Regions from separate parts of the Homo sapiens genome. Here regions 1, 2 and 4 are each linked to region 3. Evidence: fine-mapped expression QTL. A gene starts in region 3. Each other region holds a variant in brackets. All regions are shown on one strand. Distances are from middle to middle.

What was found.
Region 1: its variant is fine-mapped to the expression of TNRC6A in whole blood (INTERVAL, PIP above 0.99).
Region 2: its variant is fine-mapped to the expression of TNRC6A in atrial appendage (GTEx, PIP 0.91).
Region 4: its variant is fine-mapped to the expression of TNRC6A in blood mononuclear cells (TOPMed, PIP above 0.99).

What each region holds. Positions count from the first base shown.
Region 1 is chr16:24,667,831-24,675,936 of GRCh38, reverse strand. LINC01567 (long intergenic non-protein coding RNA 1567) reads left to right here and starts at 4,875. Exons shown (of 3, transcript NR_122072.1): 1 at 4,875-5,010. It also overlaps a transcript of TNRC6A not described here. The variant A/G (reference allele first, on the strand shown) is at 3,933.
Region 2 is chr16:24,652,964-24,661,069 of GRCh38, reverse strand. It overlaps a transcript of TNRC6A not described here. Among named protein-coding and RNA genes, the nearest start is that of LINC01567, 14 kb to the left of the region's middle. The variant T/C (reference allele first, on the strand shown) is at 5,034.
Region 3 is chr16:24,724,938-24,733,043 of GRCh38, reverse strand. It overlaps TNRC6A (trinucleotide repeat containing adaptor 6A), which reads right to left and starts at 3,393. Exons shown (of 25, transcript NM_014494.4): 1 at 3,198-3,393; 2 at 2,744-2,791. The coding sequence starts at 3,202. RefSeq lists a silencer at 3,055-3,364.
Region 4 is chr16:24,692,771-24,700,876 of GRCh38, reverse strand. It overlaps a transcript of TNRC6A not described here. Among named protein-coding and RNA genes, the nearest start is that of LINC01567, 26 kb to the right of the region's middle. The variant G/A (reference allele first, on the strand shown) is at 3,930.

The DNA.
Region 1 (8,106 bases), 57 kb after region 3:
GGAAGAAAAACCAAGGGTGGGACATCCTGGACTCTGTGATGATGAACTTGTGTAACCTCCAGCAGACAGAGCAGCAAAGGTCTCCAGGAATGCAAAGGAAGAGGTGGTATGAATTCCTAGACCCTATGTGGGTACTCCCATATCAAAAATGAGTCCCCATTTAGATACTGAATAGCCTCTGTGTGTGTTGTGTGCATATATATATATATATATATATATATATATATATATATAGAGAGAGAGAGAGAGAGAGAGAGAGAGAGAGAGAGAGAGAGAGTCTCTGGCTGGAGTGCAGTGGTGTGATCTCACCTCACTGCAACCTCTGCCTCCTGGGTCCAAGCAATTCTCCTGTCTCAGCCTCCCGAGTAGCTGGGATTACAGTTGTGCACCACCATGCCCAGCTAATTTTTTGTATTTATAGTAGAGATGGGTTTCACCATGTTGGTCAGGCTGGTCTTGAACTCCTGACTTCAGGTGATCCACCTGCCTCGGCCTCCCAAAGTGCTGGGATTACACATATGAACCACAGTGCCTGGCTTGGAGAGCCTCTTTTAAAGCTAAAATGCATCTGTATCCTTCGGCAGCCTGAAATCTTAGGAAATTCAGGCACGTACTATCTAAGAATCACAGCATTTCTCATGCAAAATATCTTTTTGTACTTCTCTTGCAATTCATTCCAATGTGTTCTGTCTGTCCACAACACAGCTTGTGTTTCTTTGATTATTTCCCCCCATGTTGGGATTATAAAATTACATAAAATTGGTGTTGGTTGGAGAATGTTTTTGGTTTTTTGAACAGGGTCTCGATCTGTCACTCAGGCTGGAGTGCAGCGGTGTCATCATAGCTGACTGCGACCTTGAACTCCTGGGCTCAAGCAATCCTCCCACCTCAGCCTCCTGAGTAGCTGGGACTACAGACGCATGCCACCACAACTGGCTAATTAAAAAAATTTTTGTTTTTGTAGAGACAGTGGTCTCAATACGTTGCCCAAGCTAGTCTTGAACTCCTGGGTTCAAGTGATCCTCCTGCCTTGGCCTCCCAAAGTGCTGGGATTACAGGTGTGAGCTACCACTGCCTGGTGGGTGGAGAATTTGGATGGCTTGACAGAGATGGTTACTTTGGCAGTCTTTCCATAATCTCTCTTGTGATCCCTTTAAGAAAAGTTTACGTCACATGATTGTTCAGACTTAGACAAAGATGTGTGTGTGTGTGTGTGTGTGTGTGTGTGTGTGTGTGTGTGTGGTGGGGGCAGTGTTGTAAGAGAATAAATAATATTTAAAAGAATTACTTTACAGAGTCTCAGCTTCTGTCACAATACATTGAATTTGCCTGCTTTTATGTGGAACTCCGTTGCAACGGAGAGGAAAGGATGGCCCACTTTCACCTAAAATCCAGATTCTATAACTTGCAAAGTCTCTTTCCAATTAGTTCCAGATTATTAATGCCATCCTGGCAAACTGATAACTCACTGTTTAGGGCACGCTGAATCATTTCATACTATTTTATTTTATTTATATATCTATATATAGTTTGAGACAGAATCTCGCTCTGTCACCCAGGCTGGAGTGCAGTGGCATGATCATAGCTCACCGTAGCTTTGAATTCCTGGGCTCAAGTGATCCTCTATTGAATTTAAACTTAATTTAACTGAGACCAGCCTGGGCAACACATCGAGACCTTGTTGCTACTAAAAATAAAAAAATAGCTGGCGTGGTGGCACAAGCCTGTAGTTCCAGCTACTCAGGAGGCTGAGGTGGAGGATCACTTGAGCTGAGGAGGTCAAGGCTACAGTGAGCTATGATCACACCACCGTATTCCAGCCTGGGCGACACAGCCAAACCCTGTCTCAAAAAAAGAAAAATAAAAAAGATCATAGATTAGAGACAATGGTTCCCAGCTCCCTTTCCTCTGCTGCAACTATGATGGAAATGTTTTGGATGGTATCTGATGCCAAGCTCTTCTGAGAATGTTACCTGACGTGGATGCACCAAGCTGCACGAGGGTGAGGACTTTTGTCATTGACAACTGTATCACTTCAGCTAGTGCCCATTACACGGTTCTCACGAAAATATTTCTTGAGGCCGGACATGGTGGCTTATGCCTGTAATCCCAGCATTCTGGGAGGCCGAAGTGGGTAGTTCGCTTGAGCCCAGGAGTTCAAGACCAGCCCTGGGCTGGCAAAAGTCTGTCTCTACAAAAATTAGAAAAATTAGCTGGGCACAGTGGCGTAGGCCTGTAGTCCCACCTTCTTGGGAGGCTGAGGTGGGAGGGTTACCTAAACCAGGGAGGTTGAGGCTGCAGTGAGCCGTGATTGCACCACTGCACTCCAGCCTGGGTGACAGAGTGAGACCCTGTCTCAAAAACATAAATAAATAAAATAAATTTCCTGAATGAGTTGTTGGAAGATTGTTTCACTGCTCGAGCTGGTGGGATTCTCACACCCTGCCAGAATCTACTTCCTTATCTTTGCCTGGGACATGGCCCCTTGCAAAGTGGACCTACAGGCATCCCTCGGTGAGCGAAGCCCTGTCTCTGGGAAGGCTGTGGAACACAGTTCCAGAACATAGCTTTGAAGCCCAGTGGACCAGATTTGAGTTCACTTTGAAATTTGATAGCTGTGTGACCTTCAATCTTGGTCAAGTTACTTACTTTTCTACTTACCCTCAGGACTCTCATTATCAAAGTTTGTACACACACAGAAAAGTTGAAAGAATAGTACTATCTTTTTTTATTTTTATTTTTAATTTTTAAAAAATTTTTGTAGAGAGGGAGTCTTGCTTTGTTGCCCAGGCTGGTCTCAAACTCCTGGCCTCGAGCAATTCTTCCACATCTGCCTCCTGAGTAGCTGGGACTACAGGTGTGTGCCATCACACCTGGCTAAGTTTTAAAATATTTTTTGTAGAGATGAGGGTCTCACTATGTTGTCCAGGCTGATCTTGAACTCCTGGGCTCAAGCAATCCTCCTGCCTTGGCCTCCCAAAGTGCTGGGATTACAGGTATGAGCCACTGTGCCCAGCCAGAATAGTACTATTGATGACACAATGATGAACTATCTAGGTTCAAAAATTGTTAATATTTTGCTGTATTTATATGTAAATACATGCATATGTATGTAAGTATATCTACAAGTAAGTTACAGGCATCATGACACTTCTCTAAATACTTCAGCCTGTATCATCTAAGAAGAACAGGCCAGGCACAGCGGCTCATGATGCCTGTAATCCTAGCACTTTGGGAGGTTGAAGTGGAAGGATCACTTGAGCCCAGGAGTTGGAGACCAGCTTCAGCTATATGGCAAGTCTCCTGTCTCTACAAAAAATAGCAAAAATTAGCCAGGCATGGTGGTGCATGCTTGTAGTCCCAGCTACTCAGGAGGCTGAGATGGGAAAATCGCCTGAGCCCAGGAGGTTGAGGTTGCAGTGAGCCGTGATCACACCACTGCACTCCAGCCTGGGTGACTTCGTGAGACCCTGTCTCAAAAAAAATAAACAAGTAAAAAATAAACAAAGGGCCAGGCGCGGTGGCTCACGCCTGTAATCCCAGCACTTTGGGAGGCCGAGGAGGGCGGATCACGAGGTCAGGAAATTGAGACCATCCTGGCTAACACGGTGAAACCCCATCTCTACTAAAAATACAAAGAAAAAAAAATTAGCCAGGCGTGGCGGCGTGCGCCTGTAGTCCCAGCTGCTGGGGAGGCTGAGGCAGCAGAATGGCGTGAACCCGGGAGGCGGAGCTTGCAGTGAGCCGAGATCACGCCACTGCACTCTAGCCTGGGTGACATAGCAAGACTCCGTCTCAAAAAATAAATAAATAAAATAAAATAAACAAAGAACACTTTCCTACACAAACACAACTCCCGAATCACTCTTGAAGAGAATTAAAAATGATTTCCTAACACAATCTCACATGCTGTCCATATTAAAATTTCACCA[A/G]CTGTCCCTCAAATGTCTTTTTATGACTGTTTTAATTTTTCTGGTCAGGATCCAATGTAGGATCAGAAATTGCATTTGGTTTTTGTCTCTTTACTCTTTTTTTCTAGAAAAGATTTCTACCCTTTTGTAAGTGACACTGATTTTTATTTTTTAATTTTATTAAGACAGGGTCTCACTATGTTGCCCAGGCTGGTCTTGAAGTCCTTGGCTCAAGCAATCCTCCCACCTCGGCCTCCCAAAGCGCTGGGATTACAGGCGTGAGCCACTGCACCTGGCCTGACATTGATATTTTTAAGAGCTCATCCAGGCTAGTTGTCATGGAAACATCTCACATTTTGGATTCGTGTGATTGTTTCCTCGGGGTGTTTTCTAGGCTCGATTTCCCCATCTGTGAAATGGGCGCAGTGACAGTAGCCACCACATGGGTACCACATTCTACTCCCCAGGCAGTGCGAGAACTGCAGGGCATAGTGCCTGCACAGCGCCTAGTGCAGTGTCTGGCACATCACGGATGCTGAATAAATGAGCCATTGCCATCACCATCATTCCAACCAGCATCCTCCACCTCATCACCACCAGCATCTTCAGCACCCCAGAGTCCAAGCCGCGTCAATGCGCAAACTTGTCTCATTCTTTCCTCACCCTTCTGGAATGTCTTATGCCCCTCCTGCTCAGTTCCCTCTCTCCTGGAGACCTTAAGCGATGAAACTTAAGCCGTATGAATCTCTTAGCCCCTCCAGCAACTGGAGTTTAGCCTCACCCATCTTCCTAAGGACAACCTCTCTTTTTTTTAGAATCACAATTTTCTGACCCCAAATGGTTTAGACACAGTGAGGCATTAACGGTGTCATGTCCACCCAGGGAGCAGGCGGGTGCTTCGTCATTGCTGGTGCTGGTGGTGGGTGACCTTGGCGCGGAGGCTGTCGGTGCGGCAGCTGCTGCAGTGCTGTCGGAGGGTTGCTGGGGAAAGGAGATTGGCTGGCGAGGAAGATGAGGAATGTGCTGCCAGGAGACTGGGATCACGGCCAGATGCTAATTACGATGGCCTGGGGGTGCTGGTACCCCCTGTCAGCATCATGTAAGGAAGTGTGGGGGCTGGCGGGAGTGGGGGAGGTGAGAGAAACGGGCAAGGTGAGAGGGACTGACAGGTTGGAGAGATCCACTTGTTCCCCAAGGGTCCACCCTCCCTTCAGACCCAAGCTGTCTGGGAGAAATTGTGGCTGTCACCATAGCAACAGCAGCAGCTGATGCGTGATGCACAGTGTCTGTTAGAGAAGCTCGGTCAAGCTTGTACCAGTATTTTTCCATCCGAATCTCATTTCTTCAGTGAAATGAGAGAGATCGGAGGCTGGGCAGGGCACAGGTGGGGCCAAGCAGGTATTTGGAGAGGGAGTACAGACAGGAGAGTTCTCAGATAGTCTACTGAATTTGAAAAGAATACAGATTGAAGAGAAGCAGATTTTTACATTACTAAGACATCATTTAAATATCCAGACTGCTTCCAAATTCCCTTAAATTATACATGAATTGCTGAAACAGCAGCCCCGTAGCCTCCAGAAAGGTGCAACGCATTGCATCTGGGAGACCCTTGCGGGAAGGGTTGTTTCTGCAGTCCTGAAGGGCACCAACCTGGGAGTGAGACTGACCTTAGACTCCCAGCTCTGCCACTTCCCAGCTAAGTGGCTTTGGGCAAACTATTTTCCCACATTAAGCCTCAATGTCCTCATCTGTAAAATGGAGATAATAAGAACAGCTGGCTGGGTGTGGTGGCTCACGCCTGTAATCCCAGCACTTTGGGAGGCCGAGGTGGGTGGATTGCTTGAGCTCAGGAGTTCAAGACCAGCCTGGGCAACACGGTGAAACCCCGTCCCTTCTTAAAATACAAAAATTAGCTGGGCATGGTGGCATGCACCTGTAGTCTCAGCTACTAGGGAGGCTAAGGCATGGGAATTGCTTGAGCCTGGGAGGTAGAGGTTGCAGTGAGCCAAGATCACGCCATTGCACTCCAGCCTGGGTGACAGAGTGAGACTCTGTCTAAAAAAAAAAAAAAAAAAAAAAAAAAAGTAGCTGCCTCATAGGGTCATAACGAGAACAAAATGAGTGGATGCATATAGCATTAAGCCTAATACTTGGCTCATATAATGAACCCAGTAAATGGTTGCTATTATTACTATAACAACTACTTCTATTACTGTTGGTGCTACTATTACTATTACTACTCTTACTACTAAAACAAGTACTGTTATTCCTCCTCCTGCCAGCACCATGGGGATTACACAATTCAGCTGAGGACAGGATGATGAATCACTGGCGACTCAGTCCTCTCCCACGAATGGTACTGGAGTGCTTGAATTTGCCAGCACTTTTGTAAGGAGCTGGGAGCAAAGGCTGAGAAGACACAGTCACTGCCCAGACACAGTCACTGCCCTCATAGACTGTGAATCTAGTGTCCAACAAAGGCATGACTCAACAAACAACCAGGGAATCCTATGGGAGCTATAGGATTTTTTTTTTTTTGAGACAGAGTCTTGCTTGTTGCCCAGGCTGGAGTGCAGTGTTGCAATCTGAGCTCACTGCAGCCTCTGCCTCCTGGGCTCAAGTGATCCTCCCACCTCAGCCTCCTGAGTAGCTGGGACTACAGGGGCACGCTGCCACACTCAGCTAATATTTAAATTTTTTGTAGAGACTATGTTGCTCAGGCTGGTCTCGAATTCCTGGGCTGAAGCAGTCCACCCAACTCAGTCTCCCAAACTGCTGGGATTATAAGTGTGAATGCCCCGCCAGGATTTTTATTAGAAGAGATTGTACAGATGATCTATTTCAGGATTTTCCCAAACTCATCCCTCAAGTTTCCCCTCTCTATTTTAGTCCTGAGTACCACTCACATTGTTATTTATTTAAGGCTTTATTTCTCTTTAAATTGATCCCCCTTTCATTGGTCAAATAAATGTGGTTTGAAGAAATCTGGATCGCACTGTGGAAAATGTGAAATTAGCATCACTTGCCATGAAAAAAAAAACCCATAAAAATAAAAACAACGAGACTAATTGTGTCGTCGCATTCCAGCTAATACCCTTTTCCTGTTGAACTTTCAGAGACTCAGGCTCACTCTGTTCAAAGGGAGGTTGGCAAGGCTCAGAGAGGTGTTAAAGGCACACTAGCACAAAATGAAACTTTTTCCTTTTTAATCAGAAGTGCTGCAAAGCAACCAAAGGAAGAATGACTTTCTCACTGAGTAATTCAATGACATCAAATGTTCCATGTTCTTTCCCATCTAAGGTCATGGCTGGCCTTAATTAAGGGTGAATAATTACCTCTTCTCAGAGGGGGCGGGAAAGGCAGGGTAAGAAGTAGGCCCTAGAGCAGACTGCATCTCTGCTGAGTCTAATTGTTCCGGTGGCCAATGCCAGGTGGAAAGCATGGCCTTGGTGATAAAAATGGAGGCAAGCGTGATGCCAGTTTCAGACTGCTTAAGTAGTTCAGAGGCACTGAAGCCCAGTGGGGGAAGTCGGGTAGAGCCGAGGGACTGGCCCAGATCATGAAGGCTTTGTAAATTGCACTTATTCACTGAGTAAAGTGCAAGCGCTGAAATATACATATACATATATATATGTAATTTATTTTTCTTTTCTTTTCTTTTTTTCTTTTTCTTTTTTTTTTGAGATGGAGTTTTGCTTTTGTTGCCCAGACTGGAGTGCAATGGCATGATCTTGGCTTGGCACAATCTTGGCTCACCGCAACCTCCACCTCCTGGGTTCAATCAATTCTCCTGCCTCAGCCTCTCAAGTAGCTGGGATTACAGGCATGCGCCACCACGCCTGGCTAATTTTTGTACTTTTAGTAGAGAGGGGGTTTCACCATGTTGGTCAGGCTGGTCTTGAACTCCCGACCTCAGGTGATACTCCAGCCTCAGCCTCCCAAAATGCTGGGATTACAGGCGTGAGCCACCATACCCAGCCTATATATATGTAATGTTTTAAGACACAGGGTCTTGCTCTGTTGCCATGACTGGAGTGCAGTGGTGCAATCCTAGCTCCCTGCAGCCTCAAAATTCTGGGCCCAAGAGATTCTGCTGCCTCAGCCTTCTGAGTACCTGGGACTATGGGCATGTGCCATCACGCCCAGCTAACTCAAAAAATTTTCTTGGTATGTTGCCCAGGCTGGTCTTGAACTC
Region 2 (8,106 bases), 72 kb after region 3:
CCAGATAAAGGTTAAGAAGAAGAAAGCTGGGCAGGGCGTGGTGGCTCACGCCTGTAATCCCAGCACTTTGGGAGGCCGAGATGGGTGGATCACGAGGTCAGGAGATCGAGACCATCCTGGCTTACACGGTGAAACCCCGTCTCTACTAAAAATACAAAAAATTAGCCTGGCGTGGTGGCGGGCACCTGTAGTCCCAGCTACTCGGGAGGCTGAGGCAGGAGAATGGCGTGAACCCGGGAGGCGGAGCTTGCAGTGAGCCGAGATCGCTCCACTACACTCCAGCCTGGGCGACAGAGCGAGACTCCGTCTCAAAAAAAAAAAAAAAAAAAAGAAAAAAAAAAGAAAAAAGAAAAAGAAAGCTGAATTCATGATATTAATATCAGACAATGTTGAATCTAAGGTTAAGGGAGGCAACCTAGACAAATGGGGGCATTTTATAATGACAAAGGGCACTAAGAGTTAGGCTAAAGCTTCAATGTGAGAACACAACAGAAAATGGCATCAAACTTGCACACGCATGTTTATAGCAGCACAATTCACACTATTCACAACTGCAAAAATGTGGAATCAACCCAAATGCCCATCAATCAACGAGTGGATTAAAAATCTGATATATATATATATGAATGATGGAATACTACTCAGCCATAAAAAGGAATGAACTAATGGCATTCGCAGCAACCTGAATGGGATTGGAGACTATTAGTCGAAGTGAAGTAACTCAGGAATGGAAAACCAAACATCGTATGTTCTCACTCATAAGTGGGAGCTAAGCTATGAGGATGCAAAGGCATAAGAATGACACAAGGGACTTTGGGGACTCAGGGGGACAGGGTAGGAAGGGGGTGAGGGATAAAGGTCTACAAACTGGGTTCAGTGTATACTGCTTGGGTGATGGCTGCACCAAAATCTCACGCATCACCACTAAAGAACTTACTCATGTAACCAAACACTACCTGTTCCCCCCAAAACCTACAGAAATAAAAAGTTAAAAAAATAAAATAAAATAAAATGGCATCAAAATAATTACAGCATCAGCTTCCAACAGACACCAAGACTAACATATGACTATAGCTCACCTCTCCCAGCTTGCAGTAGATAAAAAAATTAAAAATAAAAATTTAGAGGATCTCAATGTATATTTAATAAGGCCGACTTTGTAGTTTATGTCGAATACTATGCACTAATAATAGAGGATACATCTTTTATGTGCCTATGGAATTTTCATGGTAATAGATGATGTATCAGGCCATGAAGAAAATCTTAACAAAATTCAAAATGGAGAAAGAGTAGAGACCACTTTCTAGTCACAGTACAAGAAAGATAGGGCTGGGTGTGATAGCTCATGCCTGTAATCCCAGCATTTTGGGAGGCCAAGACAGGAGGATTGCTTGAGCCCAGGAGTTTGAGACCAGCCTGGACAACATAGCAAGACCCTGTCTCTACAAATAATACAAACATTATCCTGGCATAGTGGTGCACACCTGTAGTTCCAGCTACTTGGGAGGCTGAAGGAGGAGGATTGCTTGAGCCCAGGGGACAGAGGCTGCCGTGAGCCATGTTTGTACCACTGCAGCCAGTCTGGGTAACAGAGCAAGACCAACAAAATTGGAAGGGGAAAATTCTACCACCCACCACTTGGTAAAAGGGAGCGTTTTTTGAGGGCACGAGGAGAGAGACACAGAGACAGACAGATCAAAGAAAAAATTTAAACCCAAATTTCTCAACATCTTGAATAACAAAATGAAATTAATACATAGCAAAACCTCTGTCCTATGACTAAAACTGGATTGTTAAGTAGAACAGAGCCCTAAACAAAGGCATAAGTAGAGAAGGACAAAGAAAGTAAGTGAGTTTAGTATTCACTCAAAGAAGTTAGAAAAACAACAAATTATTCTAAGAAATAAGAAGGAATAAAATAATAAATGGGCGAATTAGAAAATAAAATAATGGTGGGGTGCAATGGGTCCTACTGCAAAGTGCCTGTAATCCCAGCACTTTGGGAGACTGAGGCGGGTGGATTGCTTGAGCTCAGGAGTTCAAGACCAGCCTGGGCAACATGGCAAAACTCCAACTCTACAAAAAATACAAAAATTAGCCGGGTGTGGTAGCGCACGCCTATAGTCCCAGCTACTTGGGAGGCTGAGGTGGGAGGATCGCTTGAGTAAGGGAGGCAGAGGTTGCAGTGAGCAATGATCTGCACTGCACTCCAGCCTGAGTGACAGAGTGAGACCCTGACTCAAAACAAAAAAAAAGAAAAAGAAAAGAAAATACACAAAAAAATAGAATTAATTAATGTAAGAGCAAACTCTTTGGGGTGAGTTGGTTAGAGTAAAATAAATAATTGAAAAGTCAACTAATCAGGAAAAAAAGAGGAAGAAAGCTCAAAAACACAACATTAGAAACAGGGTGGGTGGGGCTCTGTGGCTCATACCTGTAATCCCAGCACTTTGGGAGGCCGAGGTAGATCACTTGAGGTCAGGAGTTCAAGACCAGCCTGGCCAACATGGTGAAACCCTGTCTCTACTAAAAATACAAAAATTAGCTGGTTATGGTGGCACATGCCTGTAATCCCAGCTACTTGGGAGGTAGAGGCAGGAGAATTGCTCGAATTGGGAAGGCAGAGGTTGCAGTGAGCCAAGACCGTGCCACTGCACCCCAGTCTAGGGGACAGAGTGAGTGAGACTCTGCCTCAAAAACAAACAAACAAACACAAAGAAACAGAGTGGAGGAAATATCATAACAAAGAGGAAATGAAATGGCTTTGTACCTTGCAAAACTGTGCAATGAAATTTGAAAATCTGAATGAAGTAGATTATTTTCTAGAAAAATGTAACTAATTGTCCACAGTTTTAGAACTCTGAAATAAAACAGCAAGCAGAAACAAAACTGTAAATGTTAACCAGCTTCCCACCCCAAATTCACCAGACCCACAGGAGTTTTAGATAAAGTCTTCCAAATAGCCAAGAAATAAGCAATTCTGCTTCTATATAAATTGTATCCAGGCACGGAGAAATAAAAGATGTTCATACTTTTTGTCAAAGCCACATCAAAACCTGAAAATCATGTCACAAAGAACAACTATATAACAAAACTCACTTATGAATATCTTATCTTAAATAAGATAGTACCAAAGAAAACCCAGCATATTTTAGGAATGTAGGAAATGCTGTTTTAGGAAATCTACTAGTAAGCAACATTCACCATATAACTTGGCTTAAAAAAAAAAGTGGCATAAAATTATCTCAAAAATGCAATGTTATTAGCATAGAATTGACAAAATATTCTCTTACAGCTTTCTAAGTCTCCACTGCATTTTTGGCTAAACTCCATTTTTTATTTCCATTTTTTTTTTTTTTTTGAGATGGAGCTTTGCTCTGTCGCCCAAGCTGGAGTGCAGTGGCACGATCTCAGCTCACTGCAACCTCTGCCTCCTGGGTTCAAACGATTCTCCTGCCTCAGCCTTCCAAATAGCTGGGATTACAGGTGCGTGCCATCATGGCTGGTTACTTTTTGTATTTTAATGGAAACGGGGTTTCACCATGTTGGCCAGGCTGGTCTTGAACTCCTGACCTGAAGTGATCCACCCGCCTCGGCCTCCCAAAGTGCTGGGATTACAGGCATGAGCCGCCTGCCCGGCCTTTATTTCCAAACTTTGAAATATGTGCTCTATTTTCCTTGATAAGTCTCTCTAGAGGTTTTGTTTGTTTGTTTCTTTGTTTGTTTGTTTTTTTTTTTTTTTTTTTTTTTTTGAGATAGGGTCTCACTCTGTTACCCAGGCTGTAGTGCAGTGGTGTGACCATTGCTCACTGTAGCCTTGACCTCCCAGGCTCAATCAATCCTTCTGCCTCAGTCTCCCAAGTAAGTAGCTGGGAACACAGTCATGCACCACCATGCCTGGCTAATTTTTGTATTTTTTGTAGAAGATAGCGTCTTGCTATGTCTCCCAGGCCGTTCTCCAACTTCTGGGGTCAAGTGATTCTTTTGCCTTGGCCTCCCAAAGTGCTGGGATTACAGGTGTAAGCCACCATGCCCCGCCTCTCTAGAGTTTTATTTTATTGATCTTATCAAAGACCCAGGTCATGGTTTTATTTAACATTTATTTCTATTATTTGTTTCAGTAATGTCTGCTTTTATTAGGTTTGATTCTGTCTACCTGCTACTTTGGGTCATTTTGTTCTTTTTCATACTTCTTTTATGTGAAACATTTTATTTTTAAAATTCTTTCTTAATAGAAACACTTAACATAACAATTTTGCCTCTGATTACAGGGTTGTTTACATCTTATCAGTTTTGAAAGGTAGGGTTCCTTTTGTTGTTTTGTACATAAACAGAAGCTGCCATTTTAATTTCCTCTTTCCCCCAAAATAATTTCTATAAATGATTTTTAAAAGTTCTAAATATTTTGCCCTTTTTGTTAACCTGGTGTTATTTATTTATAGTTTGTTTTTAACAGATAATTTGACTTGTGCAATTTCTGCCTTTGGAATTTTTTTAAGTTTTTATTTGGCCTGATATATTATCATTTTAAATATATGTTCTATGTATTTTTGAAAAGCATATGTACTTCTTTTTCTCTCTCTCTCTCTTTTTTTTTTTTTTTGAGATGGAGTCTCGCTCTGTTGCCCAGGCTGGAGTGCAGTGGCACGATCTTGGCTCACTGCAACCTCCGCCTCCCGGGTTCAAGCGATTCTCCTTCCTCAGCCTCCTGTGTAGCTGGGATTACAGGCATGCGCCACCATGCCCAGCTAATTTTTTTTTGTATTTTTAGTAGAGACGGGGTTTTGCCATGTTGGCCAGGCTGGTTTCGAACTCCTGACCTCAGGTGATCCACCTGCCTTGGCCTCCCAAAGTGCTGGGATTACAGGCCTGAGCCACCACGCCCGGCCTCATTTTTCTTTTCTTTTCTTTTCTTTTTTTTTTTTTTTGAGACAAGGTCTTGTTCTGTCACCCTGGCTAGAGTGCAGTGGTAGTGCATGGCTCACTGCAGCCTCCATTTCCCAGGCTCAGGTGATCCTCCTGCCTCAGCCTCC[T/C]GAGTAGCTGGGACCACAGGCACTCACCACCATGCCTGGCTAATTTTTAAAAATTTTTTGTAAAGACAAGGGTCTCCGTAGGTTGCCCAGGCTGGTCTCAAACTCCTGGCCTCAAGTGATCCTCCTGCCTTGGCCTCTCAAACTGTTGGGATTACAGGTGTGAGCCAGGGCACCAGGCCTATATTTCTTGCTATGTATCTATTATCTAACATTTATTAATTCTGTTATTTAAATCCTGTTTCTTTTGTATTTTGTTCGTTCAGACTGAGAATAGTTTGTTAATCTTTAGCTCAATTTTAGTTTTGTCAACAATTCTTATATTTCTACCGAAATACTCTTTTTTTTTTGAGACAGAATTTCACTCTTGTCGCCCAGGCTGGAGTGCAGTGGCACGATCTTGGCTCACCGCAACCTCCGCCTCCCAGGTTCAAGCAATTCTTCTACTTCAGCCTCCCGAGTAGCTGGGATTACAGACATGTGCCACCACGCCTGGCTAACTTTTGTATTTTTAGTAGAGACGGGGTTTCACCATGTTGGCCAGGATGGTCTCGAACTCCTGACCTCAGGTGATCCACACGCCTTGGCCTCCCAAAGTGCTGGGATTACAGGCATGAGCCACCATGCTTGGCCAGGAATAACTCTTAAAAGACTGTTCCCCTTATCTAAGGCCTATAATAAAAATAAATGGCGATTATAGTGAAAATACTTTAAAACCACAAAGCAGAATTTCATGTTTTTTGACAAAATCTTTTTTTCTATCAGTGTTCCCCCCCGCCTTTCAAATTTTTTTTTTGAGACAGGATCTTGTTGTGTCACCTAGACTAGAGTGCAGTGGCACGATCACTTCTCACTATAGCCTCTACCTCCTGGGCTCAGGTGTTCCTCCCATCTCAGCCTCCTGAGTAGCTGGGAACACAGGCGTCTGCCACCATGCCCAGCTAAATTTTTGTATTTTTTGTAGCGATGGGGTTCTGTCATGTTGCCCGGGCTAGTCTTGAACTCCTGGGCTCAAGTGATCCACCCACCTTGGGCTCCCAAAGTGCTGGGATTACAAGCGTGAGACACTGTGCCCAGCCTTTTCTTTACCTCATAGATGATCATAAATGTTTTTATCTTTGGGAGAAATTATACCATCTACCGTGAAATAATATTCTGTCCAGAATGTTTTTGGTTATGTGTCTGATTTTGTCCAAAATTGGTGAGTTTTAGGTTAAAATTAGTAATTTAGTAAAATTACTGAAATTTACTTTAAATTACAGGTGATTCTTTTCTGTTGTTGTGTGTTTTTTTATTTTTTATTTTTTATTAATTTTTTTTTGAGAAGAAGTCTCACTCTGTCACCCAGGCTGGAGTGCAGTGGTGCGATCTCATCTCATTGCAACCTCCGCCTCCTGGGTTTAAGTGATTCTCCTGCCTCAGCCTCTGGAGTAGCTGGTACTACAGGTGCATGCCACAGACATTAGCACCATGCTTGGCGAATTTTTGTATTTTTAAAGTATAGACGGGGTTTCACCATGTTGGTCAGACTGGTCTCGAATTCCTGATGTCAGGTGATCCGCCCGCCTTGGCTTCCCAAAGTGCTGGGATTACAGGCGTGAGTCACCGTACCTGGTCTACAGGTGATTCTTATAGGGACTATTACTAAAAATTTTCTGCAAATCATAAAGCTATATCAAGGTGTTGAGCTTAGCCATTAAGCACAGTGTAATCATTCATTGAGCCTGTCCAGTTTGATTATGCATTCTGGCATTTTGTAAGCTGCTCTGCCTAGCAATATATAGATTCATTTAATATGTTAACATTGGCTAATAAGCCAAGTGCAGTGGGTCACACCTGTAATCCCAGCATTTTAGGAGTTCAAGGCAGGAGGATTGCTTGAGGCCAGGAATTTGAGTGCACCAAATTTGAGTGCACATGGCAGCCTGGGTAACATATTGAGACCCCATCTCTGCAAAACATTAAAAAATTAGCTGGGTGTGGTGGCTATGCCTGTGGTTCCAGCTACTTGGGAGGCTGAGGTGAAAGGATCACTTGATCCTGGGAGGTGGATGCTGCAGTGGGCTATGATTGCGCCACTGCACCCCGGCCTGGGCCACAGAGAAAGTCTTGGTCTGCCCCTGCCAAAAAAAGTTAATAATTTTCTTTCTAAGATCTCAGCTCAAAGTATTATCTCTTCAGAGAGGTCTTCAATCTAAAGTACAGTCCTTTAGTCTAAAGTAATGCCTATCACGTTAACTAGGCTTCTTTTTTTTTTTTTTGATAGAGTCTCGCTCTCTCACTCTAGGCTGGAATACAGTGGTGCCATCTCTGTTCACTGCAACCTGCACATCCTGGGATCCAGTGATTCTCGTGCTTCAGCCTCCCAAGTAGCTGGGATTACAGGTGTGCGCCACCATGCCTGCCTGCCTAATTTTTGTATTTTTAGTAGAGACAGGGTTTCACCATGTTGGCCAGGCTGGTCTCGAACTCCTGACATCAGGTGATCTGCCCGCCTCAGCCTCCCAAAGTGCTGGGATTACAGGCATGAGCCACCGCGCCTGGCAGTTAATAGAAGTATTTTTTAAAATTAGTATTACTCTTCTATTTCCTTTGTATTTCTGATGTATTTTAGATCACCCCCACTTTTTTCCACTTAATGCTTTTGATTCACTTTGCATTAGGCTTGTCTCTTGGAAACAGGATGTAGCTAGATTTTAAAAATCGATTCCGAAGGGCTTTGTTTTCCACAGGGCTTGCTGTCCTTTTATTTTTGTCATCTCAGGTCTCATCATTGTCATCGTGGTTGTCTTTTCTGAGGTGAACGCTCCCTTGTTTATTTTTTCTTCCTGTCATTTGCAATGTGAATCATGCTGTCTTTGTTGGGGTTATTGTTCTATTGCTTTATAGATTTGTTCATTCCAGTTTTATTCTCAGACACACAACTTCTGCTTAGATAGTTCAGAGTTCCCATAATCCTGTCTTAGAAAAAGGCTGTGGTCTTAGGGAAGTGGAATGCAATTTCAATTTAGAAAATGGTTGGAAGCAAATGCTCCCAAGAAGCTCAAATTTCAGGGTGCTTTTAAACAAAGTTCAA
Region 3 (8,106 bases):
GGTTTCACTATGTTGGCCAGGCTGGTCTCGAACTCCTGACCTCAAGCAATCCACCTGCCTTGGCCTCCCAAAGTGCTGGGATTATAGGTGTGAGCCACAGCACTCGACCAAAAGATGTTTAAATTAACTCAACATCTAAAAGTTTGGAGGCTTTCACGTTACAATTCCTAATGAAGATCTAGAGCAGTGGTTCTCAGCCAGGGTCGATTCTGCGCCACTCCCAGGGACATCTAGCAATATCTGGAAGCATTGGTGATTGTCACAACTGGACGGGGAGTGCTACTGCGGATGCTGAACATCCTGTGATGCACAGAACAACCCTCAAAATAATAAATTATCTGGTCCAAAATGTCAAGTGCCCAGATGAAAAAACTGATCTAGAAGTATTGCATGCATCTGTGGGTCCCGCCTACCAAAAGAAATTTTCAAATTTTGCAAGTTCGAAGCCTAAAAAGTTACTCCAATTACCAGTGATATGGTCTCCTCCAAGTTACTTAACCTCTTTATACATCAAATTCTCCATCTGTAAAACGGAGATAACAATACTACCTACCTCACAGGGTTTTTCAAGGATCAGATGAGTCCATGTAAAATCTTAGGAAAAGTGTGCCAGGCACATAGTAAGCAATCAATAAATTTAACTACTTACATTCTTCCCTGGCTTAGTGCCCAGTCCCACAGTTGAAATATCGAAAATGCTCAAAAAATGGTTACTCAATGAATACAATGCCTTGATTTCCTGGAGAGAGCACTATGGGTAAAGACAGATACATTCTTTTTTGTGAAAAAGGAAACACAGCTAGAGATGGAGATGAAGGAAGCATCTGCCCACCTAATCACCTCTCTCCTTCCTCAGAACACTTTTAACCTGCAAGAAATGCTCCCCTCTCATTGGATCCTTAGTACACACTGCCTTACAATCTCTTTGATATTTGTTTTTCCTTTCATGCCTTCTGACCGACTGAATATTCTCAAGCACATGAATGGGATGGTATCTTTTGATTCCTACGTCATCTACCTAGTACTACTGTTATTTATGCATTTATGATAGTCTTTCTACTAGACTGTACATGCCCTCTGTGAACACGGACAGCACTTTACTCCTTTTATGTAACCCAAAGGGCCTAACAGACCTCAGCAACTGGCTGGCCCACGCCGCTCGTTTTATAGATTGGACAGAGAGGCTAAGTGACTTGCCAAGAGTCAAGGTCATATTGCAAGTAGCAGAGCTGGAATTCAAACTCTGATAAATAGCCAACCCAGACTCGAGTTCTACCTAATATTAAAATTATACCTGTGGCACAGACAATTTTTAATTAAGTACTAGAGCACCTTCATAGGAATTATACTGATATAGTTACCTGATAAAACAAAAATGGAAGGAGAAACAGACCTCTAAGCTCTGTTCTGCTGATATTACACCTTAATGGCTCAACCTGTTTTCTTTAATGGTTTCATATCTTAACATTTCCTTACTAGATTTTGACAAAATTTATGTAAATATACCACAAATAGTCAGTGATGTCAGACTTAATTTCCTTTAAATGATCCCATAATTATTTTGAGTAACAGAGAATCCCTTACTGGGTAAACCAATGATGCCTATCCTTCACCATCTGAACACATTCTTTAACGATCACCTGAACAGATTAGTATCTTATGAAACTCAATAGGCCAGCAATTTGGAACAATTCTACGCGGTGCAAAATATTCAGACGATTTGAAATGTGAGTGTTAAAAACCCCAATGTAAACCTAAAACCCGCAATCATCAAGAGCAAACTACATTAAAACCTGAGATAGGAGAAATTTCATTTTATTTTCAACAAGTGAAAAAAAAGAAAAAAAGAAAGCTATTCACGGATTTGGTTAATTGGCTAAGTTTCCCTGAGTGTCCCAATATGATGCAAAAGAAAAAGGGGAATAAGAAAGGAAAAGACGGTAGGAAAGAAAATGAATGTGAAAAGGAGTTAAATACAGTACAATTCCTTGATGCTTAAGCAATTACAGCTCAATGAAGCTAAATATTTCCATTCCATAAAGACATCGTTTAAAAAAAAAAAAAAATTCTCCCTTCACGGTGATGCAAAAGCAGCAGGGCCCAACAGGAACGATAACCTCTTCTGGAGAAAAGATTTTTAATTATTTTACCAGCTGATAAAAAGAGCACACACCGAACATGGACAGAAATGGAGTTTCGAAGGAAAACAAAACGCAGCTTATGCTTGGTAAAGTTCAAGGACAAAACTGTGTCCAATGCAACAGAATCCGCCTGACTACAATGTATGGGGGGGGGGGGGGGGCGGGGGGGAATGCGAACACATAGTATCTTTTTATAAAAGCAACAATTTGAGCTACAAAGTAATAACGGGGAAGCCAAAACAGTTTGACAGCCCGCCATAAGGGCCGCCTCAATCATGAGTCACACAATGCCTGCAACCATTTACAATAGTAATTAATGCACAAGTCCCCTAATTAAATTCTAAAAGGGTGAGAATGCTTTAACTAAGTTTACAAGAATTGCTTTGCGCTTTTTTTTTTTTTTTTTAAAGAAAGAAACACACGCGTAATTACGCATCTCCCCGCAATCCCTCCAGTATTCCCCCAGGCCGCTTCTCCCGAATGTCTGCTCTCCGGGTGCGGAAGAAAATGTCACGGGGGAACTTCTCAACCCAGAAAAGGCGAATCGGAGTAGAAATATACGATTATCGTGGGGCGGGAGACGGAAAGCTCGCCCATCTTACCTGCTAAGATTTCTTTCTACGTCTTTGGTAGCTTTAGCTTCCAATTCTCTGAAACAAAAAAACAAAAACAAAAACAAAACAAAAACACACACACAAAAACGAGATGCGCGTGAAAACGGAGCTGCTGCGGCAGAGGCTCGCGCCGGGGCCGGATGGGGGAGGGGAGAGGACGGGGGGAGGGGGACTCACAAAGCTGCGGGGCTGCAGCCCGGACTGCGGTCCCGCGGCGCGGGCGAGGCGCAACCCCGGCCTGGCCCCCGCGGCGCGGCGCAGCGAGGCTCCCCCGGGCCGCCCGCTCGGCCTCCGCAGCAACGCAGCCTGCGCCCTCCCGCCGAGGCCCGAAGTCTCGGGGACGCCCGGCGCCGCCGCCTCTGCTGCCGCCGCCGCGGGTTGCGGGCCCTGCGGCAGCGCCCGCGGCTCCTCCCGCCCGGAGGGAGGCCCTTGTTCCGCTCACCTCATGTGTGTAAAGTGCACGAGCAAGTGGGGCGCGGCGAAGGAGGCTCGCGAGCCTCAAGCCCTCCGCAGCGCCGCGGGGAGAGGCCCGAGCCGCTGCACCAGCGCCATTTTCTACACCGACCCGCTGCCGCCGCCGCCGCCGCCGCCGCCGCCGCCGCCGACACCGCCGCCGCCGCAGGCCCCAGACCGGAAGTGAATGCCCCACTCGGCAACCCCTTCCGGGGGCGCCACGGCCACTGGCCCCCAAGATGGAGGCCCTAGCAACTGGACCCGCAGATTGGGCAGGTCCTTGGCAACCGCCCCGGCGTGTCACGCTGCACCCAGCCGGACCTCCCTGGAGGTCACAGCCTCCGAGGCGCCCCGCGGAGTGGCTGGGGGGGCCTGCGGAGTCCCGAGTCCAACCTTTTTCGGTGCGGCCGGCTCCGGTCTGACCGAGGAGGGGAGTCCCTCCCCTCCTCCTCCTTCTTTGCTGCGACACAAGTTTCCTACCCGCCGCCCGGCCCCTCCCCCACTGACACACGCCAAAAAAAAAAAAAAAAAAAATTGCCTAAAACGCAAATTTTACCCCAACTGCAGCCTGATGAGCCCGCGCGGCTTTTGAATTCAGCCACTTCTAATTATTTTTGACCTTGGGCCAGTTATTTAACCTCTCTGCTTCTCTGTTCCTCCTCAGGTAAAGAATGCATACCTGAGGCGGGTTGTGAGGCTTAAAAGCGATTTTTATCCACCGACCTTTGACTCAGCAGTTCCGCCTGCACGGATTTTCTGCTCAGGAAATAATTCTGGGTATCTGCAAATATTTCACCTTCGAGATACTAAGCTGTGGTATTGATGATGGTGAAAAATTGCAAACAGCCAAAATGTCCAGCGCTACTAGATGGCTTCAAAAACAGCTACTGGCATGTATTAGGACACTGTAAAAATGATGTGGAGGAATAATCCCGGCATGGAGGAAATGGTTGCAATAGAATAAATGAAAAAGCAGGTTCCAACGTAGCTCACACAGTAAGAAACATCTTAGTGTAGACACAGTAAGATACATACATGTAGATAGACTAAGATATGTATATATGTAGACACAGATGCATATGTGTACATTAAAAGTATACATACATACCTACATGTAGATACAATAAGACATACATATCTGCAGGTAGATACAACAATACACATACATGTAGATACAGTAAGATACATATTTTCACTTGCGTGTGTTCTTTCCAACCTCTCATCAAGCTTTTTCTTCTAATTTAAAGATAATTCCTCCTCTGTGCTTAAAATCTATAACCTTTACTTTCTCAGAAACCCCACTCTGTGGATCATCCCATTCTCCTTTTTCTAACCTAAGTTCTTCAACTGGCTTTTTTTTTTATTTTTTTATTATATTATCATTTTTTTTAGGCGGAGTCTCGCTCTGTCTCCCAGGCTGGAGTGCAGTGGCGCGATCTCCGTTCACCGCAACCTCCGCCTCCCGAGTTCAAGCAATTCTCCTGCCTTAGCCTCCCAAGTAGCTGGGATTACAGACACGCACCACTGCGCCTAGCTATTTTTGTATTTTTAGTAATGACGGGGTTTCGTCATGTTGGCCAGGCTGGTCTTGAACTCCTGACCTCAGGTGATCGCCCCCCTCGGCCTCCCAAGGTGTTGGGATTACAGGCGTGAGCCACCGCGCCCAGCTTCAACTGGCTTTACAACATGCTTGAATCTCTCCCGTTAAAAACAAACAAAACTTCCCTAGACATGTTGGGTTCCTGTCCTCTCCGATAGGTTAAGCTAGTGAATGAATGCACAGAAAGTCATGAAACATATGCACCAAAACGTTAACTGATTATGACTTTTTTTCATTTTCTTCTTTTAGTGTATCTGTTTTTTTCTTTTTTGCGATGAGCATATAAAAAACACTTTTTTGAAAAAAAAAATCAGGTTTACAAAATATAAAATGTAGTGGGCACCGAATAAATGCTAGTGACTTTCCTTTTCCTGCTATCATCCCTGAGGTTCATTTACCTACACACATATTTGTTTTTCTTTCATAATCCTTTCTACTTAAAATGTTTAAAAGTTACTATGGTGTTTCATTAGGAGTTTAAAAATATGAACATATACGTAATGGCACAATATGCTTTCATACCAGGTTTAGGAATAATTTTTCACAACAACATAAGGCAATGAAAACAGTCATATTTATCAACATTTGCACAGCTGTTAAGATTGGCTGATTTTTTTTTTATTAGACTTTTTTAGGTTTTAATGACTCAGTGATTCTTAATTGGGACAATGTTGCCCCCATCCCTACCCCTGGGGACATTTAGCAATGAACTTTTTGGTTGTCACACTGGATGCTACTGATTGGTATCTGATAGCTACAGACCAGGGATTCTACTAAATATTCTACGATGCGTAGGACAGTCCCCTACAACACGGGAGTATCTGAACCAAAATGCCAATAGCACCAAGGTTGAGAAAGCCTGGAACTAATTCCCAGCTCCAGCAAAGCTAATAAGATATGATTTCTTGGCCAGGCGCGGTGGCTCATGCCTGTAATCCCAGCACTTTGGGAGGCCGAAGTGGGCAGATCATCTGAGGTCAGGAGTTTGAGACCAGCCTGGCCAGCATGAGGAAACCCGGCCTGTAGTAAAAATAAAAAATTAGCCAGGCATAGTGGTGCATGCCTGTAATCCCAGCTAATTGGGAGGCTGAGGCAGGAGAATCGCTTGAACCCAGGAGGCAGAGGTTGCAGTGAGCTGAGATCACACCATTGCACTCCAGCCTGGGCAACAACAGTGAAACTCCACCTTAGGGAAAAAAAAAAAAAAAAAGATGTGATTTCCAGAAGGTTTGTTGACAGTGATTGGACATCCCATCTGAGCCCTCCTGGGCTGCAATGTAGAGTGTTTTATATGAGGTCATGCTAGTCACTTTTAAATTATCTCTTACTTAAACTTGGTGCATACATCGAAGAAAAATGACAATATAAGATCAGCACTGATTCCTTATGTGGGACCCTCTAAGGGATCTTTTCCTGTTACTATCTTTTCTTTTTACTAAGTAATCATTCTCTCTACTGAATATTTCCCATCACCACACAAACTCTAGTAACTTTCATTAAAAAGCAAAAAGCCCAAAACTCCCTTGATGCGTCATTCCTCTCCAGCTCCATTTTTCTGCTCTCGTTCCCAACAATGCTTTCTTGGGAAACTGTTCAACACAAGCACCTTCCACTGGCTCTCCTCCTTCTCCCAGCTCTCTTTAACCTGATATCCCCATCCCTCCTGCAAAACTGCTCTTATGAAGGTCGCAAATGACTTTGAGGGTGCCAAACTCAATGGAAACATGTCTGTCCTCATCTTGATTTACTTCTTAGCTACATTTGCCACAACCTAACTCTCCCTCCTTCTTAAGAGAATCTCTTTGCTAGGCCATCCTGACAGTATATTCTTCTGGAGTTCTTTTTACCTCTCTAGCCATTTTTTTTTTTTTTTGGTATCTTTTGCTAACATCTTCTGTTTTATATCAAATAAATGTTGGAGATCTCCCCACTCCCAAGGCTTTGTTCCAGACTTCTGTTCTTCCCCCTTCTCTACTCTCCCTTTAGGATGGGTAATCTCATTTATTCTCTTGTATTTAAGTACTCTCTGAATGCAGATTACTCTCAGATTTAAACCTTAACCGTTGTCTCACCTGTGTACCCCTGAATGCCAAAATGACAATTCACTCACACAGTATTTATTGAGCACCTACTATGTGCCAGGCACTGTGCTAGGACTGGCTTCTCTGGTTCTTGTGAGGAACTACAGTGGTGGATGAAGTCTAGCAAGGCAGACAGATTTGTTTTTTTTTTTTTTTAGACATAGTCTTGCTCCGTCACCCAGGCTGGAGTGCAGTGGCATGATCTCAGCTCACTGCAACCTCTGCCTCCCGGGTTCAAGCGATTCCCTTGCTTCAGCCTCTCCAGCAGCTAGGATTACAGACGTGTGCCACTACACCTGGCTAATTTTTGTATTTTTAGTAGAGACAGGGTTTCACCATGTTGGCCAGGCTGGTCTCGAACTCCTGACTCAAGTGATCACCCGCCTCGGCCTACCAAAGTGCTGGGGTTAGGCATGAGCCACCGTGCCTGGCCGATTTTTTTTTTTTCTTAAGCAAACAAAAAGTGTATAATTACAAACTATGGCAAGTGCACAGAAGGATAGGAATGTTGCTCTAAGAAAGTGTAAAACAAAGGAACACAACATTGATTATGCAACAAAGAATGTTTCTTTGAAAATGTAAAGCTTCACCTGAGAATGGAGAGAGGAGCTGGGGAGGGGGAGAGGAGGGGGTCTCAGGCTGGAGGGTTACATTTATGGTTACATTTGTGGGTTATCAGTGCGGAGGGAAACAGGCTTCATATTGTATTTGGCTTTAAATCTGCCAGACCGAGGCAAATGGATTGCTGGAGCTCAGGAGTTCGAGACTAGCCTGGGCAACATGGCAAAACCCCATCTCTACTAAAAATACAAAAGTTAGCCAGGTGTGGTGGTGTGCATCTGTAATCCCAGCTACTCAGGAGGCTGAGGTGGGAGGATCGCTTGAGGCTGGGGCAGGGGGTAGGTTGCAGTAAGCCAAGATAATGCTACTGCACTCCAGTCTGGGTGACAGAGTGAGACCTTTTCTCAATAAATAAATAAATGAAACTGCTAGTGTTGTCATTTTCATTTTACTTGCATCAATCCATTAGGAATGGAACCAGAAACAAGGTCCTGTAAAGAGAAACACGCTGTACAAATTTAATTTTAAATAAGCCCTTTTTCTCCATTTGTCTTTGTTCCTGTGGCTTTTGAAGTTATCAGGACAAAGATGTTCTCTAACTTCTCCTCCTTCTCTTACTGAGAAGGGCAAATGATGAGCCTAATACTTTGGAAATT
Region 4 (8,106 bases), 32 kb after region 3:
CGGAACATGGGGTGGCAGGGAACAAGTGGTTTGCTATAAAGAAGCAAGAGAAAAGATGTTCAACATGCTGGCTAGTGGAGAATGTCTAGAGGTGTGGGGTCAGGGATCGGCTGAAACATATAGGTAGGCTATTGCCTAAGGACAGCATCTCACTGGCTAAGACAGCCAGACAGGCACAGCGGTCAGCACTTTGAGCCTAGTTACTGAGCACAGCCAATATGGCACCTCTACCACGAAGATCCATAGGTCATTAGGGTTCAGGGGTGCAGCAAGAGAAAGAGAAGAGTGTGAGGGAACCCCCTGGAGCACCACTTACTTATTTATTTAATATTCAGACATAGGCTGGGCACGGTGGCTCATGCCTATAATCCCAAAACTTTGAGAGGTCAAGGGGGGAGGCTCATCTGAGGTTAGGAGTTCGTAAGACCAGCCTGGCCAACATGGTGAAACCTGTCTCTACTAAAAATACAAAAATTAGCCGGGCATGGTGGCATGCGTCTGTAGTCCCAGCTACTTGGGAAGCTGAGGCAGGAGAATTGCTTAAACTTGGGAAGCAGAGATTGCAGTGAGCCAAGATCGCACCACTGCACTCCAGCCTGGGCAACAGAGTGAGACTCTGTCTCAAAAAAAAAAAGAAAAATTCAGACACAGGGTCTCACTATGTTGCCCAGGCTGGTCTTGAACTCCTCCTGGCCTTTGAGTGATCCTCCCGTCTCAGTTTCCCAAAGTGCTAAAATTACAGGTGTGAGCCACCTTGACCAGCCTCTGGGGCACCTTTTGATCCCAGCTATTACCAGATACTAGAGTTACTGTGGGTCAAAAACTTTGGGCACCCAGAACCTAAAGGGTCCCTGATTCTGGAAGGGGCAGAATCAAGCATGGTGGAAGGAACATAGCCTTTGGCATCAGAGCTAGATTTAAAGCCTGTCTCTGCTACTTATTTCCTGTGTAACACTAGCACTTGGCACATTGCTGAGCTTCTTAGAACTTCGGTGTCCATATCTGTAAAATGGAAATTAATAATTCTTACCCCTCAAGTCCTCAGGGTTGACTGTTAAAGAAATGGTATCTGTGGCCCTTCAGCTCAGTGCTCTCTTGTCCATCTCTGGGCTTTTGTATTTGTTATTTTCTCAGAAGCTTTTTTTTTTTTTTTTGGTAGAGACAGGGTTCCATTCTGTTGCCTGGGCCGGAGTGCAGTGGCGCAATCATAGCTCACTGCAGCCTTGGAATCCTAACCTTAGGCGATTCTCCCACCTCAGCCTCCCAAGTATCTGAGATGACAGGTGCACGCCACCATGCCCAGCTCATTTTAAAAATTTTTTGTAGAAATGGGATCTTGCTATGTTGCCCAGGCTTGTCTGGCACTCCTGGCCTCAAGCAATTCTCCCGCCTTGGCCTCTCAAACTGCTGGCATTACAGGTGTGAGACATCGTGCCTGGTCTAAGAGCACATTTTACTCAACCCAGCTTTGCCTGAATATCTCCTAGTCATCCTTTTGGTCTCATCTGGCTCTTTTCTTCCTCCTGGAAGTCCTCCTGGGTTGATTGTCTCTCTTCTGTGCTCTGTAGTGCTGCCCACTTTCACACCATGTGAGAATTCTTTGCCTGTCTCTCTCCTCACTAAGTCTGTGGAGGCACGAATAGGACTTAGTTCATCAGTGTATCCCCAGTTCATGGCACATACACACTGGTGCTCAACAGATATGATTTGATGGAATGAAGTTTTGAAGATTAAATGAGATAATCAATGTTTAACCCATGCTTCCCAAATCACACTGACTAGGTGGGTAAAAAACAGAAACATGAAACACTTATCCATTCAATACCCGCTCTGTAGGTTCTTCAGCTCCCTTAAAATTCTCCCCAAAGGGCCAGGAGTGTTGGCACACCCCTGTAATCCCAGCACTTTAGGAGGCCAAGGTGGGCAGATCTCTGAGGTTGGGAGTTCGAGACCAGCCTGGCCAACATAGTGAAACCCCGTCTCTACTAAAAATACAAAAGTAGCCAGGTGTGATGGCACATGCCCATAATCCCAGCTACTTGGGAGGCTGAGGCAGGAGAATCGCTTGAACCCAGGAGGCAGAGGTTGCAGTGAGCTGAGATCATGCCACTGCACTCCAGCCTGGCGACAGAGCAAGACTCTGCCAAAAAAACAAACAAAAAAAACCTCCCCAAAGACCCTAGGGAAACCTCAAGGAAGGGAGCACAGGCTCTGGAAATAAATCGAGTGGGTTTCCATCTTGGCTCTGGCATTTACCAGCTCTGTGACTTACTCTATCCATGCCTCAGTTTATGCACTTGTGAAATGATTCCTAACTCTGCCAAGGAGACTAAACATGCTAATATTTGCACAGTGCTTGTAATGGTCCCTGGAACACAGTAAAGAATGTACGGGTGTTTAATATATCTCCAAGCGCACCACACACCGGTCTTCCTGGCTACTGTGCCGTGTTCCTTGTCTCTCACTCCAACTGCCTATGATCATTTCCCACTACTGCTGGTGCCTCAAATGGCATTTAATCCAATCTTGGGGGGTTCAGGCAGCCTATGTATATTGCTTGGATTGCATTCAACCACACTCTTATAATACCCAAACCACCGCTTCTTCCACATGAATGTGCTTGTGAATCCATTGAGGACCCTGTAGATTCTGATTTGGAATCTGGGGCAGGCCTGAGATTCTGCATTTTTTGTTTTCTTTTTAATTTTTTTTGTAGAGTCGGGGTCTCGCTATGTTGCCCAGGCTGGTCTCAAACTTCTGGGCTCAAGCGGTCCTCCTGCCTCGGCCCCTCAAAGTGCTGGGATTATAGGCATGAGCTACAGTGCCTGGCCTGCATTTTTTTTTTTTTTTTTTTTGAGACAGAGCCTCACTGTGTCACCAGGCTGGAGTGCAGTGGTGCAATCTCTGCCTCCCAGGTTCAAGTGATTCTCCTGCTTCAGTCTTCCGATAGCTGGGATTACAGGTGCCTGCCACCACATGCAGCTAATTTTTGTATTTTTAATAGAGACAGGGTTTCACCATGTTGGTCAGGATGGTCTCGATCTCTTGACCTTGTGATCCACCCGCCTTGGCCTCCCAAAGTGCTGGGATTACAGGCGTGAGCCACCATGCCCGGCCCCAGTCTGCATTTCTAATAAGCTCCCAGGTAATGCTGATGTTGAAGGTTTACGGACCATATTTTTACTTGTTTTTGAGACAGGGTCTCCCTCTGTTGCCCAGGCTGGAGTACAGTGGTGCAATCTTGGCTCACTGCAAACTTCACCTCCTGGGCTCAAGTGATCATTCCACCTCAGCTTCCTAAGTAGCTGGGACTACAGGTGCGTGCCACCATGCCTAGCAAAGTTTTGTATTTTTAGTAGAGACAGAGTTTCACCATGTTGGCCAGGCTGGTCTCGAACTCCTGGCCTCAAATGGTCTGCCCACCTTGACCTCCCAAAGTGCTGGGATTACAGGTGTGAGCCACTGTGCCTGGCCCACATTTGTACTTAACAAATACCTAAACAGTAAAAATTTGTTTTTCTCACCAGTCTTTGTACTGAAGTGAAGAGAGACACAAGAGACACAACGATTCAGAAGAGGATTAGACAGAAAGATATCAAAAGATACCCAGACGTAGGTAGTTTCTGTCATTGCTTCAGCAGTTTTTCCTTTTATTTTTAGTTGACATGTAATAATTGTACATATTTATAGAAGACAGTGATATTTCAATATGTGTATACAATGTGCAATGATCAAATTAGCGTAATTAGCATATTCATCACCTCAAACTTTCAGGCCTCAGTGTTGTGAACATTCAAAATCCTCCTAGCTTTCTGAAAATATGCAATAAGCTACGGTGAACCATAGTCACTCACTAACTAGTGCTGCGGAACAACAGAACTCATCTTTCCTATCTAGCTGGTGTAAGCATTTTAATGCTATCAGTTCTC[G/A]TGTCTCTGTGATATTCTTGGCCACAAAATGACTGCTTCAGCTCCGGTCATCACATCCATGACCAAGGCAAAAAGAAGGGGAATGGCTAAAGGGAAGAGCTAGTTCTGAGTGTGCCCTTCTAATATGAAAGCCCTTCTTTCCTTCCTTCCTCCCTCCCTCCCTCCCCCTCCCCTTTCCCTTCCCTTCCTTTCCTTTCCTTTCTTTTTTTTTTTTTTTTTGAGACAGGGTCTCGCTCTGTTGCCCAGGCTGTACTGCAGTGGTGCAATCGTAGCTCACTGCAGCCTTGACCTCCTAGTCTCAAGCAATCCTCCCACCTCAGCCTTCTGAGTAGCTGGAACCACAGGCGAGCCACCACGCGTGGCTAATTTTTAAAATTTTTGTAGACACAGAGTCTCACTATTTTGCCCAGTCTGGTCTCAAACTCCTGGCCTTAAGCAATCCTCCCACCTTAGCCTCCCAGTGTACTAGGATTACAGGCGTAAGCTGCTTTGCCTGGCCACCCCTCATTTCTGATCCATTGTATTTGAGCTGAACAAGCACCTTTAGCATGAATTCTTTCCAGGGAGTTCTCATACTTTCTTTTTTTTTTTTTTTTTTTTGAGATGGAGTCTGACTCTGTCGCTCAGGCTGGAGTGCAGTGGCGCGATCTGGGCTCACTGCAAGCTCCGCCTCCTGGGTCCATGCCATTCTCCTGCCTCAGCCTCCCGAGTAGCTGGGACTACAGGCGCCCGCCACCACGCCCAGCTAATTTTTTGTAGTTTTAGTAGAGACGGGGTTTCACCGTGTTAGCCAGGATGGTCTTGATCTCCTGACCTCGTGATCCACCCGCCTCGGCCTCCCAAAGTGCTGGGATTACAGGGGCGAGCCACCGCTCTCGGCCCTCATACTTTCAACCACATAAAAAGCGCAGTGGAGTTTTTTCCTCTCCACCATTAGCTGTTCCCTTCTTGAGTCAATAACATCGTAATCCTATCTTGAGGGACAGAATCTCAGCCAAATGCTGGTGGGAATCCCATTAATTCCAAGCTCAAGGGGGTTGAGTCTAGAACTGAGGTTGAGCCAATCAGTGCACTCCTTCTCCCTAGGCAACCAGTGATTGGTTCAGGGATGGTGACGGTGACGTGGCCAAATTAACCACCAGGGCTGAAAAGACTCAATCCCGTGTTTTGCTTGAAACACCCGTGAAACAGACTTGCTTTTCCATGCTGAATGTCCACAAACACGGCCACAGCTGTAAAAACTTTTGGAAGGCCAGGCGGGGTGGCTCACGCCTGTAATCCCAGCACTTTGGGAGGCCGAGGCAGGCAGATCACGAGGTCAGGAGTTCGAGACCAGCCTGATCAAAATGGCGAAACCCCGTCTCTACTAAAAACACAAAAATTAGCCGGGCGTGGTGGTGCGCGCCTGTAATCCCAGCTACTGAGGATGCTGAGGCAGGAGAATCACTTGAACCCAGGAGGCGGAGGTTGCAGTGAGCCAAGATTGCGCCACTGTACTCCAGCCTGGGTGACAGAGCGAGACTGTCTCAAAAAAACAAAACAAAAAATATATATATGTATAAAAAGTAAAAACATAAGAGCTTCTGGGCTTTTATGCACTGGGCTTCTGTGACTTGCAGCTGGAAAACATAGTTGACACAGGTAGACATCATAACTTGGGATTATTTTATGCACAGCCTTCAATCAGTATCAGATACCCTTGGAGTACAGTTTCCTTCCCACCACTGGCTCGCTGCCTGACCTCACTCCCCAGAGTTTCGTTTTCTTCAGCTAGAAGAGGAGGAAAACAGAAATGCCTTTATTATGGGGTTAAATGAGATGGTGCTCGTGAAGAACTTAGCACAGGGCCCAGTACACTCCCGTGCCAGCAAGCAATGTCACATTATCCGATGTGGGTTTTCTGAATCAAATTAAAGCTGCAGGGCCCCAACAGCCCAACAGGTCTGGAGAAAGTTTCAGCTCAGCCATCAGAGGGCAGTGGTCCAGAGATGGCTCACAGTGATTCCAAATTTGTTTTAAGAGGGTCTCGCTCTGTCACTCAGGCTGGAGTGCAGTCGTGTGATCATAGCTCACTGCAGCCTTGACCGCCTGGGCTCAAATGATCCTCCTGCCTCAGCCTCCCATGTAGCTAGGATTACAGGTGTACAGCACCACACCCAGCTAATTTTTACATTTTTGTAGAGATGGGGTCTTGCTACGTTGCCCAGGCTGGTCTTGAGCTCCTGGCCTCAAGTGATCCTCCTGACTGGGCTTCCCTTGGCTCACTAGTCTTTTTTTTTTTTTTTTTTTTTTTTGAGACAGAGTCTTGCTCTGTCACCCAGGCTGGAGTGCAGTGGCGCGATCTCGGCTCACTGCAACCCTGCCTCCAGGGTTCAAGCGATTCTCCTGCCTCAGCCTCCTGAGTAGCTGGGACTACAGGCACAAGCTGCCACACCCAGCTAATTTTTTGTACTTTTAGTAGAGACAGGGTTTCACCATGTTAGCCAGGATGGTGTCGATCTCCTGGCCTCGTGATCCACCGGCCTCGGCCTCCCAAAGTGCTGGGATTACAAGCGTGAGCCACCGCGCCCAGCAAGGCTCACTAGTCTTATACTTGGATCACTGCAGTTAGGGTCATTGTGTCCATGTGTTGGGGTTTTGGAAACAGGGGGCTTGGCTGCTATTGTGCTGAGGTCGGAGACGGGGGCCTGGCTATGCTGGGAGCCTCAGGCAAGAGACCGAGTGTCCACCATGAGGTCCTTTCCCTCTTAAGCACTGTCACTTTCCCTGGGTGTTGTAAGAGGGGAGGCGTGAGTCTTCTATTCTTGTGGGGTCTGCCAGTCTCTGGCTCATTTCTAGTCCTGGGGACTCTTCTGCTCCCCTTGGCTGTCACTGCTCTGCCCTTCCTCCCTTTGAGATACTTGTGTTTCTCCTCTTGTCCTTGGGGATGACCCCATACATGTCCCAGAATAATAATATGTTGAAAAACAAAGCCAGAAATGAGGGTTGTTTTCGGAGTTACTTCTGCTTTCTTCCATGTTAATCAACCCTCTTTTTAAACATTTTTTTTTGAGATAGGGTCCCACTCTGTCACCCATGCTGGAGTGCAGTGGCGGTCTTGGCTCACTGCAGCCGTGACATCCTGGGCTCAACTGATCTTCCCATCTCAGCCCCCTGAGTAGCTAGGACTATAGGCACATGCTACCATATCCAGATAATTTTTGTATTTTTTGTAGAGATGGGGTTTTGCCATGTTGCCCAGGCTTGTCTTGACCTCCTGGGCTCCATCAATCCTTCCATCTCAGTCTCCTGAGTAGCTAGGATGACAGGTGCATGACACCATGCCTGGATAATTTTTTATTTTATTTGTTTATGTATTTTGAGATGGAGTCTCGCTCTGTCACCCAGGCTGGAGTGCAGTGGCGCGATCTCGGCTCACTGCAACCTCTGCCTCCCGGATTCAAGCGATTCTCCTGCCTCAGCCTCCCGAGTAGCTGGGATTACAGGTGTGCAACCACCATGCTGGGCTAATTTTTGTATTTTTAGTAGAGACGGGGTTTCACCACCTTGGCCAGGCTGGTCTCGAACTCCTGACCTCAAGTGATCTGCCTGCCTCGGCCTCCAAAAGAGCTGGGATTCCAGGCGTGAGCTACTGCGTCTGGCCTAATTTTTTTTTTTTTGTAGAGACTGGATCTCACTTTGCTTACGCTGGTCTTGAACTCCTGGACTCAAGTGATCCTCCCACCTCGGCCTCCCAAAGTGCTGGAATTACAGATGTGAGCCACTGCAACCCTCTTCTCGTGAGAGAACACAAAGTTTGGTGTCCTTCTTAGAACAAGGGAGGGAAATCCGCTGGAAATAAAATGAGTCAGTATCTCACTACATCATCTTAATAGTGTGAGTGTGTTTATTATTATTTTTCATAGGATTATTCGGCTTATTAAATTATTATTTTAAGTAGACTACAGTGAGGAATATATTACCGGTTTACCCGAATGTAAATATGACTTTGGCTCAAATCGGAGACCTCTGAGATTTGTGATAAGTAGTTTAGTGCAGTGTCTAGTGCCTACAGGAACTGTGATAAATATTAGTGCCCCTGTTTTTCCTCCCTGAGTTTTCACTAAGAACAGCTCCTGGTGAGGTGTTAGATGTCTAGAATTGACTGCCTCTTGTGTAAATTTCAGAGTTACATGTA